2 separate regions of the Homo sapiens genome follow, and region 1 is linked to region 2. Evidence: fine-mapped expression QTL. A gene starts in region 2. The other region holds a variant in brackets. All regions are shown on one strand. Distances are between the middles of the regions. Region 1 overlaps NUCB1 (nucleobindin 1). Region 2 holds the start of NUCB1 (nucleobindin 1).

The links.
Region 1: its variant is fine-mapped to the expression of NUCB1 in tibial artery (GTEx, PIP above 0.99). The same link has a PIP of 0.9 or more in aorta, esophagus muscle, gastroesophageal junction, sigmoid colon and subcutaneous fat.

The regions. Positions count from the first base shown.
Region 1 is chr19:48,918,932-48,924,367 of GRCh38, forward strand. NUCB1 (nucleobindin 1) reads left to right here. Exons shown (of 13, transcript NM_006184.6): 9 at 99-191; 10 at 263-355; 11 at 2,223-2,393; 12 at 2,896-3,001; 13 at 3,387-4,441. The coding sequence ends at 3,493. Among named protein-coding and RNA genes, the nearest start is that of NUCB1-AS1, 2.8 kb to the left of the region's middle. RefSeq lists enhancers at 159-658, 3,805-4,304. The variant T/C (reference allele first, on the strand shown) is at 3,153.
Region 2 is chr19:48,897,293-48,902,547 of GRCh38, forward strand. NUCB1 (nucleobindin 1) reads left to right here and starts at 3,020. Exons shown (of 13, transcript NM_006184.6): 1 at 3,020-3,080; 2 at 3,494-3,639. The coding sequence starts at 3,505. TULP2 (TUB like protein 2) reads right to left here and starts at 1,452. Exons shown (of 13, transcript NM_003323.3): 1 at 1,298-1,452; 2 at 545-577; 3 at 53-104. The coding sequence starts at 576. RefSeq lists an enhancer at 847-1,662 and a cis regulatory region at 1,197-2,196.

The DNA.
Region 1 (5,436 bases), 22 kb after region 2:
GTGGTAGCGTGCCCAAAGGACTGCTGGGAGTTGAAGTTGTCGGGAATGAGCTCGCTGGGGACCTCTCAATGCTGTCTGCCTCTCGCTTGCTCCTGCAGCTGGAGAAAGTGTACGACCCAAAGAATGAGGAGGACGACATGCGGGAGATGGAGGAGGAGCGACTGCGCATGCGGGAGCATGTGATGAAGAATGTGAGGTGGGGGCCAGGCGGGGGAGAGGACGGGCCCCCAGCTCTGTCACTCACCCTTATCTGGCTCCCCAGGTGGACACCAACCAGGACCGCCTCGTGACCCTGGAGGAGTTCCTCGCATCCACTCAGAGGAAGGAGTTTGGGGACACCGGGGAGGGCTGGGAGGTGAGAACATGGGGGATACTCGGGGTCCTGAACCTCTCTCTCTTCTAGCCATGACCTTTCTTTCAGAATCTTAGGCCCCTTCTCTTTCTCTCTGGGTCCCCGTCCATTCTCCTGGGTCACTGCATCTCTATCTCTGGGTCTCTGTTTTCCCCTGTCTCTAGGACTCTTATTTATTTATTTATTTATTTATTTATTTATTTATTTATTCTGAGACGGAGTCTCACTCCATCGCCCAGGCTGCAGTGCAGTGGCACGATCTCGGCTCACTGCAGCCTCCACCTCCCAGGTTCAAGCAATTCTCCTGGCTCATCCTCTTGAGTAGCTGGGATTATAGGTGCGTGCCACCACACCCAGCTGATTTTTGTATTTTTAGTAGAGGCAGGATTTCACCATGTTGGCCAGGCTGGTCTCAAACTCCTGACCTCAGGTTATCCACCCACCTTGGCCTCCCAAAGTGCTGGGATTAGAGGTGTGATTTTTTTTTTTTTTTTTTTTTTTCTGAAACAGGGTCTTGCTCTGTCGCGTAGGCTGGAGCCCAGTGGTGGGATCTCGGCTCACTGCAACCTCCGCCTCTTGGATTCAAGCGATCCTCCCATCTCAGCCTCATGAGTAGCTGGGATTACAGGCGTGAGCCACCATGCCTGGCTAATTTTTGTATTTTTTGTAGAGATGGGGTTTTGCCATATCGGCCAGGCTGCTCTAGAACTGCTGGACTCAAGCGATCCACCTGACCTGGCCTCCCTAAGTGGTGGGATTACAGGCATGCACCACCGCACCACACCTAGCTAATTTTTGTATTTTTTGGTAGAGACAGGGTTTTGCATGTTGGCCAGGCTGCTCTGAAACTCCTGGACTCAAGCTATCCACCCTTCTCAGCCTCCCAAAGTGCTGGGATTACCCAGGCTGGAGTGCAGGGGTGTTATCATGGCCCACTGCAGCCTCAAACTCCTGTCCTCAAGTGATCCTCCTGCCTGAGCCTCCCTATTAGCTGGGACTACAGGCACATGCCAGCATGCCTAGCTAATCTAGCTCATTCTTTTATTTATTTATTAATATTTTTTGAGACAGGGTCTCCTGTCACCCAGGCTGGAGTGCAGTGGTGTAATCATAGTTCACTGCAGCCTTGAATTCCTGGGCTCAGGTGATCCTCCTTCCTTAGCCTCCTGAGTAACTGGGACTACAGGCACATACCACCATGCCCAGCTAATCTAGGTCTCTGTTTTATTTATTTATTTATTTGTTTGTTTATTTTTCAATACAGAGTTTTGCTCTTGTTGCCCAGGCTGTAGTGCAATGGTGCATTCTCAGCTCATTGCAACCTCCACCTCCCAGGTTCAAGCAATTCTCCTGCCTCAGCCTCCTGAGTAGCTGGGATTATATGCATGTACCACCATGCCCTGCTCATTTTGTATTTTTAGTAGAGACGGGGTTTCTCCATGTTGGTCAGGCTCATCTCAAACTACTGACCTCAGGTGAGCCACCCACCTCGGCCTCCGAAAGTGCTGGGATTACAGGTGTGAGCCATGGTGCCTGGCCTATTTCTATATATTTTTCAAGATGCCCAGCCAATTTTCTGTAGAGACAGGGTCTCGCTCCGTTGCCCAGGCTGACCTTGAACTCCTGGCGTCAAGTGATCCTTCCCACTTTCGCCTCCCAAAGTCCTGGGATTACAGGTGGGAGCCATGGTGCCCGGCCTTGTCTCTCGGTCTTTATCCCACTCCCACCTCCCACTTGGGCTTCTTTGCCCACCCACATGGCCCTGGCCTCCCAGCCTCCTCTACACCTCCCCCATTGGCACAACCCTCTCCAACATGGGTGGGCCGAGGTTGGACCTGTGCCCCTGATGGCCCCTGTGCCTGCCCTGCAGACAGTGGAGATGCACCCTGCCTACACCGAGGAAGAGCTGAGGCGCTTTGAAGAGGAGCTGGCTGCCCGGGAGGCAGAGCTGAATGCCAAGGCCCAGCGCCTCAGCCAGGAGACAGAGGCTCTAGGGCGGTCCCAGGGCCGCCTGGAGGCCCAGAAGAGAGAGCTGCAGCAGGTGACAGCGGGGGAAGCTGCTTCCATCCACTGAATCTCTGGCTGCCCGTGTCCGTGTCCCCATGGGTGTCCAGAAGCTGGGAAGGCCTGTGGCCACCATGTTAATCACTGGGGGAGCCTCAAGTATTCACCGCCATCTTGAGTAAGGGCAGACGTTTTCCCGTCTCTGACGGCTCTGTGGCTGCCATGTGAGATAAGGGCATTAAGGCTGTAAGTGAGGAGGGAAAGGCCCAGGAGGGGGAGAAAGGCAGACTCAGCCAGGGATGGGTGAGGGTTTCCCTGTCCCAAAGCAAGACCCAAGCTGTGACTGGAGGGAGAACTGGATCCTTGACTATTATTAAGCCCGACTGTCAATGAAAGAGAGAAACTGAGGCCCACGGAGAAGGGGTTGGCCGTGACCACTTAGCAGGCTGCTGTGAAGTCTCCGTTTGGGGACTGAGGCCTGAGCACTTGCAATGCCAGCATCACACCCTCTTGTCTGTGTGACCCCCCACCTCCCACAGGCTGTGCTGCACATGGAGCAGCGGAAGCAGCAGCAGCAGCAGCAGCAAGGCCACAAGGCCCCGGCTGCCCACCCTGAGGGGCAGCTCAAGTTCCACCCAGACACAGGTGCTGGCCCTAGTCCAGGGAGGAGGGGCTGCAGGGCTGGACCCCTGGGTCTGAGGTTGGAGGGGCTGGGCCTGGACTCCCAGATCTGAGGGAAGAGGGACTGGGGGCCCAGACTCCCAGATCTGAGGGAAGAGGGACTGGGGGTCCGGAC[T/C]CCTGGGTCTGAGGGAGGAGGGGCTGGGGGCTGGGACCCCTGGGTGTGAGGGAGGAGGGGCTGGGACCCCTGGGTGTGAGTGAGGAGGGGCTGGGGGCTGGACCCCTGGGTGTGAGGGAGGAGGGGCTGGGGGCTGGACCCCTGGGTGTGAGGGAGGAGGGGCTGGGCCTCTGGGGTCCTGGGGGAGGAGGGGTTCGGATGTCCTGTGCCACCATTCCCTCCCTCCATTTCCAGACGATGTACCTGTCCCAGCTCCAGCCGGTGACCAGAAGGAGGTGGACACTTCAGAAAAGAAACTTCTCGAGCGGCTCCCTGAGGTTGAGGTGCCCCAGCATCTGTGATCCTCCGGGACCCCAGCCCTCAGGATTCCTGATGCTCCAAGGCGACTGATGGGCGCTGGATGAAGTGGCACAGTCAGCTTCCCTGGGGGCTGGTGTCATGTTGGGCTCCTGGGGCGGGGGCACGGCCTGGCATTTCACGCATTGCTGCCACCCCAGGTCCACCTGTCTCCACTTTCACAGCCTCCAAGTCTGTGGCTCTTCCCTTCTGTCCTCCGAGGGGCTTGCCTTCTCTCGTGTCCAGTGAGGTGCTCAGTGATCGGCTTAACTTAGAGAAGCCCGCCCCCTCCCCTTCTCCGTCTGTCCCAAGAGGGTCTGCTCTGAGCCTGCGTTCCTAGGTGGCTCGGCCTCAGCTGCCTGGGTTGTGGCCGCCCTAGCATCCTGTATGCCCACAGCTACTGGAATCCCCGCTGCTGCTCCGGGCCAAGCTTCTGGTTGATTAATGAGGGCATGGGGTGGTCCCTCAAGACCTTCCCCTACCTTTTGTGGAACCAGTGATGCCTCAAAGACAGTGTCCCCTCCACAGCTGGGTGCCAGGGGCAGGGGATCCTCAGTATAGCCGGTGAACCCTGATACCAGGAGCCTGGGCCTCCCTGAACCCCTGGCTTCCAGCCATCTCATCGCCAGCCTCCTCCTGGACCTCTTGGCCCCCAGCCCCTTCCCCACACAGCCCCAGAAGGGTCCCAGAGCTGACCCCACTCCAGGACCTAGGCCCAGCCCCTCAGCCTCATCTGGAGCCCCTGAAGACCAGTCCCACCCACCTTTCTGGCCTCATCTGACACTGCTCCGCATCCTGCTGTGTGTCCTGTTCCATGTTCCGGTTCCATCCAAATACACTTTCTGGAACAAATGCATGGCTCCATGCCTGTGTATCTGGACTGGTCCCTCCAAAACGCTATTGCCACGTCACCTGCCGGAGTCCTCATCTTTGAAGACTGGATTCAAGCATCACTTCTGAGAGGCTCAATCCTGGTATTTTTCCATCTGCCCCTGATGAGTCTGCAGCCTTCACTCAGGGTCCCTTCAGCCACAAGGACAGAAAACCCAAACCTGGGATTAAGCAATTTTTTTTTTTTTTTTTTTTGAGATGGAGTCTTACTCTGTCACCCAGGCTGGAGGGCAGTGGTGTAATCTCAGCTCACTGCAACCTCTGCCTTTTGGGATCAAGCGATTCTCCTGCCTCCGCCTCCCGAGTAGCTGGGATTACAGCTGCCTGCCACCACGCCCGGCCTTCTAATTTTTGCATTGTTTTAGTAGTGATGGGGGTTTCACCATATTGGCCAGGCTGGTCTTGAACTCCTGACATCATGATCTGCCCACCTTAGCCTCCCAAAGTGCTGGGATTACAGGAGTGAGCCACTGCACCTGGCCGGGATTAAGCAACTTTTAAAAGATGAATTTGGCCAGGTGCTGTGGCTCACGCCTGTAATCCCAACACTTCGAAAGGCCAAGATAGGGGGGATCACTTGAGGCCAGGAGTTCAAGACCAGCCTGGTCAACATGGCAAAACCCCATCTCTACTAAAAATACAAAGATGAGCCGGGTGTGGTGGTGGGCACTTGTAATCCCAGCTACTCGGGAGGCTGAGGCAAGAGAATTGCTTGATCCTGGGAGGCGGAGGTTGCAGCGAGCCAAGATTGCACCACTGCACTCCAACCGGAGTACCAGAGCAAGATTCCATCTCAAAAAAAAAAAAAAGAATGTACCAGGTATGGTGGCTCCACCTGTAGTCCCAGCACTTTAGAAGGCAGAGGCGGATAGATCACGAGGTCAGGAGATGGAGACCATCCCGGCTAACACGGTGAAACCCTTTCTCTACTAAAAATACTAAAAAAATTAGCTGGGCGTGGTGGCAGGCACCTGTAGTCCCAGCTACTCAGGAGGCTGAGGCAGGAGAATTGCTTGAACCCAGGAGGCAGAGGTTGCAGTGAGCCGAGATCATGCCA
Region 2 (5,255 bases):
GGAGGCACAGAAGGCGGAAGAGTTGGAGTGGTGAGATTCCTGGGCACAATACCTGCTGTTCCAGCTTCTGCAGCCTCATAGCAGCGAGCTCATGCCCCAGGATGCTGAGAGAGACACAGGCCCATGGTGACAGTGCACAGGGAACCTCGGTTGCCCAAGAGAGTCCCTCCTTCCCCCATCCTGCCCCTATCTCAGCTTGGGTTCTGGGCACCTGTGAGGTCACAGGAGGTGCAGAACCTGAGCCTGCTCCACCAGTTATAGGGCCCTTTCTCCTGGCACTGGCCCACAGAAGCCGGGACCCAGAGATCCCAGGTCCCTCCTGTCTCAGGATTCAGGAGTCTGGGGCCCCCAACCCCTTCTCTTTCAGACCCAGAAGTCTGCACCCTAGCCCCATCCCTTCAGGACACAGGAGTCCAGGTCCCCAGCCCCTTCCTGCAAGGCCGATGGTGCTGAACCTGCAAACATGGTTATGAAGCCAGAGCCGAGTGCACGGGGTCCCCAGCCCTTTCCACCTCCACCCCTACCCATCTGTTTCCCTACTCACTCTCTCATCAATGTGTCATTATCCTGAGACATTCTGCAGAAGCAAGAATGAGGAGTCAGGATCAGAACCAACATCCCAATGGATCCTGCCCACCAGCACCTAATCTTTAGCCTTATTTATTTATTTATTTATTTATTTATTTATGTATTTAGAGACAGCTGAGCCTCGCTCTGTCGCCCAGGCTGCAGTGCAGTGGCGCCATCTCGGCCACTGCAACCTCCACCTCCTGGGTTCAAGCGATTCTCCTGCCTCAGCCTCCCGAGTAGCTGGGACTACAGGCGTCCGCTATTCTGCCTAATTTTTTTGTATTTTAGTAGATACCGGTTTTCACTATGTTGGCCAGGCTGGTGCCGGACTCCTGACCTCAGGTGATCTGCCCGCCTTGGCCTTCCAAAGTGCTAGGATTACAGGCATGAGCCACAGTGCCCGGCCTGATCCTTACCTTTAAATTTGCTTCCGGACCCAGGCAGCCCGAATCCCAGCACCCACTCCTGTCGGGATCTAGTAGCCTGTTTCCAGCTTCCCACGGGGGTCCGCAAGTCCGCTTCTCTCTCCCCCAAATATCTAATTCTCCAGCACCCAGGCATCAGAACTCAGGACTGTGCACTTCAAACACCCAGCCCCCAGCGGCCTAGAACTCCACTGCCCACCTGCCTGGGATCCGGGAGACTTGTTCTCCTCACCAGGTGCCTGGAGAGGCTGCTCACATTGATGCCTCGGTACCTTGCCTCTCTGGCCAATCTCTAAACATACCTGATCCTCTCTTTGGAAGCTGGGGACCTAATCTCGGGATATCTGCGAAATAGGGAGGAGAAGAAAGACGGCTCAGAGGGAGGGAGGATTCCCTCTGGGACCTGAACTGGTCCACTCCCTTCTGACCCTCCACTCTCCACTTCCAACAAAGTAACGAACTCGGTCACTGATGCAGCCAGGCAACCCTGCTCCGGGGGTTCTGAACACGAATGCCGTGTGGGGGTTCCTTAAAGAGACCAGAGACCGGCCCGGCGCGGTGGCTCACGCCTGTAATCCCAGCACTTTGGGAGGCCGAGGCGGGCGGATCACGGGGTCAGGAGATCTAGACCATCCTGGCTAACATGGTGAATCCCCGTCTCTACTAAAAAAAAATATATATATATACACAAAAAAATTAGCCGGGCGTTGTGGCGGGCGGGCGCCTGTAGTCCCAGCTACTCGGGAGGCTGAGGCAGGAGAATGGCGTGAACCCGGGAGGCGGAGCTCGCAGTGAGCTGAGATCGCGCCACTGCACTCCAGCCTGTGTGACAGAGGTAGACACCGTCTCAAAAAAAAAAAAAAAAAGAGAGAGAGAGAGCGGGAGACCAGAGACCTCGCGGCCTCACTGTACACATCTCGCTTACAAGAAACTTAAAAGAGGCGGGGCGCAGTGGCTCACGCCTGTAATCCCAGCACTTTGGGAGGCGGAGACGGGGAGGCAAGATTGCTTGAGTCCAGGAGATCCAGATCCAGACCAGCAACACAGAGATTTTTTTTTTTTTTTGAGACGTAGTCTCACTCTGTCGCCCAGGCTGGAGTGCAGTGGCGCGATCTCGGCTCACTGCAACCTCCGCCTCCCGGGTTTAAGAGATTGTCCTGCCTCAGCTTCCTGAGTAGCTGGGATTACAGGCATGCGCAACCACGCCTGGCTAATTTGTATTTTTAGTGGAGGCGAGGTTTCTCCATGTTGGCCAGGCTGGTCTCAAACCCTTGACCTCAGGTGATCTGCCTGCCTCAGCCTCCCAAAGTGCTGGGATTACAGGAGTGAACCCCCAAGCCCGGCTTGACATCCGTCTCTTTAAAAAACAACAACAACAAAGTGTGAGAAGTGTGAAAGACAGAACGTTAAAAAAAAAAAAAGGCTAAAAAAGAATTAAAGATTTAAATATTTGTATTAAAAATTTAAAAAATATACATTAGCCAGGCATGGTAGTGTGGCCTGTGGTCCCATCTACTTGGGAGGCTGACGCGGGAGGATTGCTTGGGCCTGGGAGGTAGAGGCTGCAGTGAGAAGTGATTGCGCCACTGCACTCCAACCTGGGTGACAGAGCAAACCCTGTCTCGAATAATAAGAAGAAGAAGAAAGAAACTCATAAGAAAGGCTATGCAATTGCTACCGCGCTATAACTTCCAGGCACTTCGTGGGGCGAAAATAAATGGGAAAACTACAGCTCCCATGAGGCGAAGGGGCCACGATGCCCGCGGAAGTTATTTTTCCCCCGGCCGGCAGGGAGTTGTAGTTATCTTTGAAAGCCTTCTCTCTCTTTTGGCATAGGCGGGAAATGTGGCGTCAAGAGGCTGGGATTCCGAGAAAGAAGCGAGGCTTTCACGAAAATGCGAGCGGCTTCGGCAAGGGGCGGGGCCGCTGGACGTGGATGAAAGCTACAGAGCCAGCGTGGACCAATCAGACCTCTTTGGGGCGGGGCCTCTGTGGATAAGTGGGCGTGGTCTAGGGGGGAAGTCACCAAGAACGCACCGGAGGTCCTTGCCCGCCCTGGAAAACGCCCTCTGCGGTGAAGGAGAGGTGAGAGGCCAGGGTTCCCATACTCTTGGGTCCTAGGGAGGATGGGGGCCAGAGGGCTGGAAAACTGGGTCCCGGAGGAGGATGCACTGGGTGCCAGTACTTTAGGTCCTGGGAAAAGAGGAGGCTGGGACCCTGGACTCTTGGGTCTGGGGGAGGAGGCGGCCGAGATCCCGGATTCCTGAGTGTGAGAGAGGAGCGTGTTGGGAGCCAGGACCCCTGGGTCTGAGGGCCCAGACTCCTGTGTCGGAGGAAGGGAAGGCCGGAGGCCTGGAATCCTGGGGCCTGGGTAACAAAATGCTTGTGTCTTGATTCTTGGAAGTGGGGGCGGCGCTGGGGGCCCGAACTCCTGGTTCCAGGGGAGGAAGAGGCTTGGGACAGACATTATGCATTATCCAGCCCTCCATCCCCCACAGACCACACTGCCATGCCTCCCTCTGGGCCCCGAGGAACCCTCCTTCTGTTGCCGCTGCTGCTGCTGCTCCTGCTTCGCGCCGTGCTGGCTGTCCCCCTGGAGCGAGGGGCGCCCAACAAGGAGGAGACCCCTGCGACTGAGAGTCCCGTGAGTGGCCCTGCCCTGCTATCCAGCCAGGTGTTTGCAGTGGTACTACAGCTCCTGCAGACCCCGGTGCCCGTAGGGCGGATGCTCCAGTGACTTCCTGGCCCTACAGTTGTAGCTTGTTTTTTGCCCACCATTCCTCCCAGCAGCAGGGGTTTGACTTGGTGAAAAACTGGAGGTCCCTGACTCTGAGGTGTGGAAAATCTGCATCACGCCCCAACTAAACGTCTGTTTTTTTAAGATTCTCTCCACCCAAGAAGGAATTTGAAAACAAACAAACAAAACTACATTTCCCAGTAGCACCATGTTGCTAGTTCCCAGTAGCAGTTGATGTTGGCTAGCTGGGGTATTCTGACTTCATGGTGCTCTTGGGAGTTGTAGTTTAAATTACAGAAGGGCGGGTGAACTGCTTGTTTATTAATTCCTACATGTGTTTATCAAACCCAATAAAAGCTTTGGTCTTAAGGGATTTGGAACTTTGGAGATCCTGAAGGTCAGTGAGTGTCTTGTGGTCCGAATCTTCCTATAGCTCCCCATAAGGATAGGCTGGTCAGGCCAGGCGCAGTGGCTCATGCCTGTAATCCTAGCACTTTGGGAGGCCGAGACAGGCGGATCACTTGAGGTCAGGAGTTCAAGACCAGCCTGGCCAACATGGCAAAACCCCATCTCTACCAAAAATGCAGAAATTAGCTGGGCGTGGTGGCTCACGCCTATAATCCCAGCTACTCTGGGAGGCTGAGGCACGAATTCTCGTGCTGGAACCAAGAGAGGTGGAGGTTGCAGTGAGCCAAGGTCACGCCATTGCACTCCAGCCTGGGCAACAGAGCTGAGACTCTGTTTTCTGAGACTGTCTCAAAAAACAAAGAATGGGCTAGTCATTACCCCCTGGAACGGATCATTGCATGTTCCTGGTCCCCACGCTGCAAGTTAGGCCTCTATTCTGTGAAATCCTTGCAGACCCAGGAAGGCTTTGTTGAGTCCCATTTCTTTTCTTCCATTCCACATGTTTCCTGAGCACCTTCTATGAGCCGGGCATAGTGTTGCCTATGTGTTGCATAGTTGTTAGGGCCCAGCCATGTGCATGCCCCATGCCCATGGACTATCCCTGCTCACTGGGAGATGGAAGACAAAGGGCAGGGCTCTATGAGAGTGAACACCAGGGGTGACAGTCAGGGAGGAAGGGAGGCGTGAGTTGAGTTCTTTCTTTCTTTCTCGCTCTGTCACCAGGCTGGAGTGCAGTGGTGCAATCTTGGCTCACTGCAACCTCTGCCTCCCAGGTTCAGGTGATTCTCCTGCCTCAGCCTCCCGAGTAGCTGGGACTACAGGCGCACACCACCACGCCCATCTAATTTTTGTATTTTTAGTAGAGACGGAGTTTCACCATGTTGGCCAGGATGGTCTCGATCTCTTGACCTCTTGATCTGCCTGCCTCGGCCTCCCAAAGTGGTGGGATTACAGGCATGAGCCACCTCATTTTTTCTTTTCCTTTTTCTTTTTTTTTTTTTTTTTTATTTTTGCTGTGTCACCCAAGCTGGAGTGCAGTGGTGCAATCACTGCAATCTCCATCTCCCAGACTCAAGCGATCCTCCTGCCTCAGCCTCTGGAGTAGCTGGGACTGC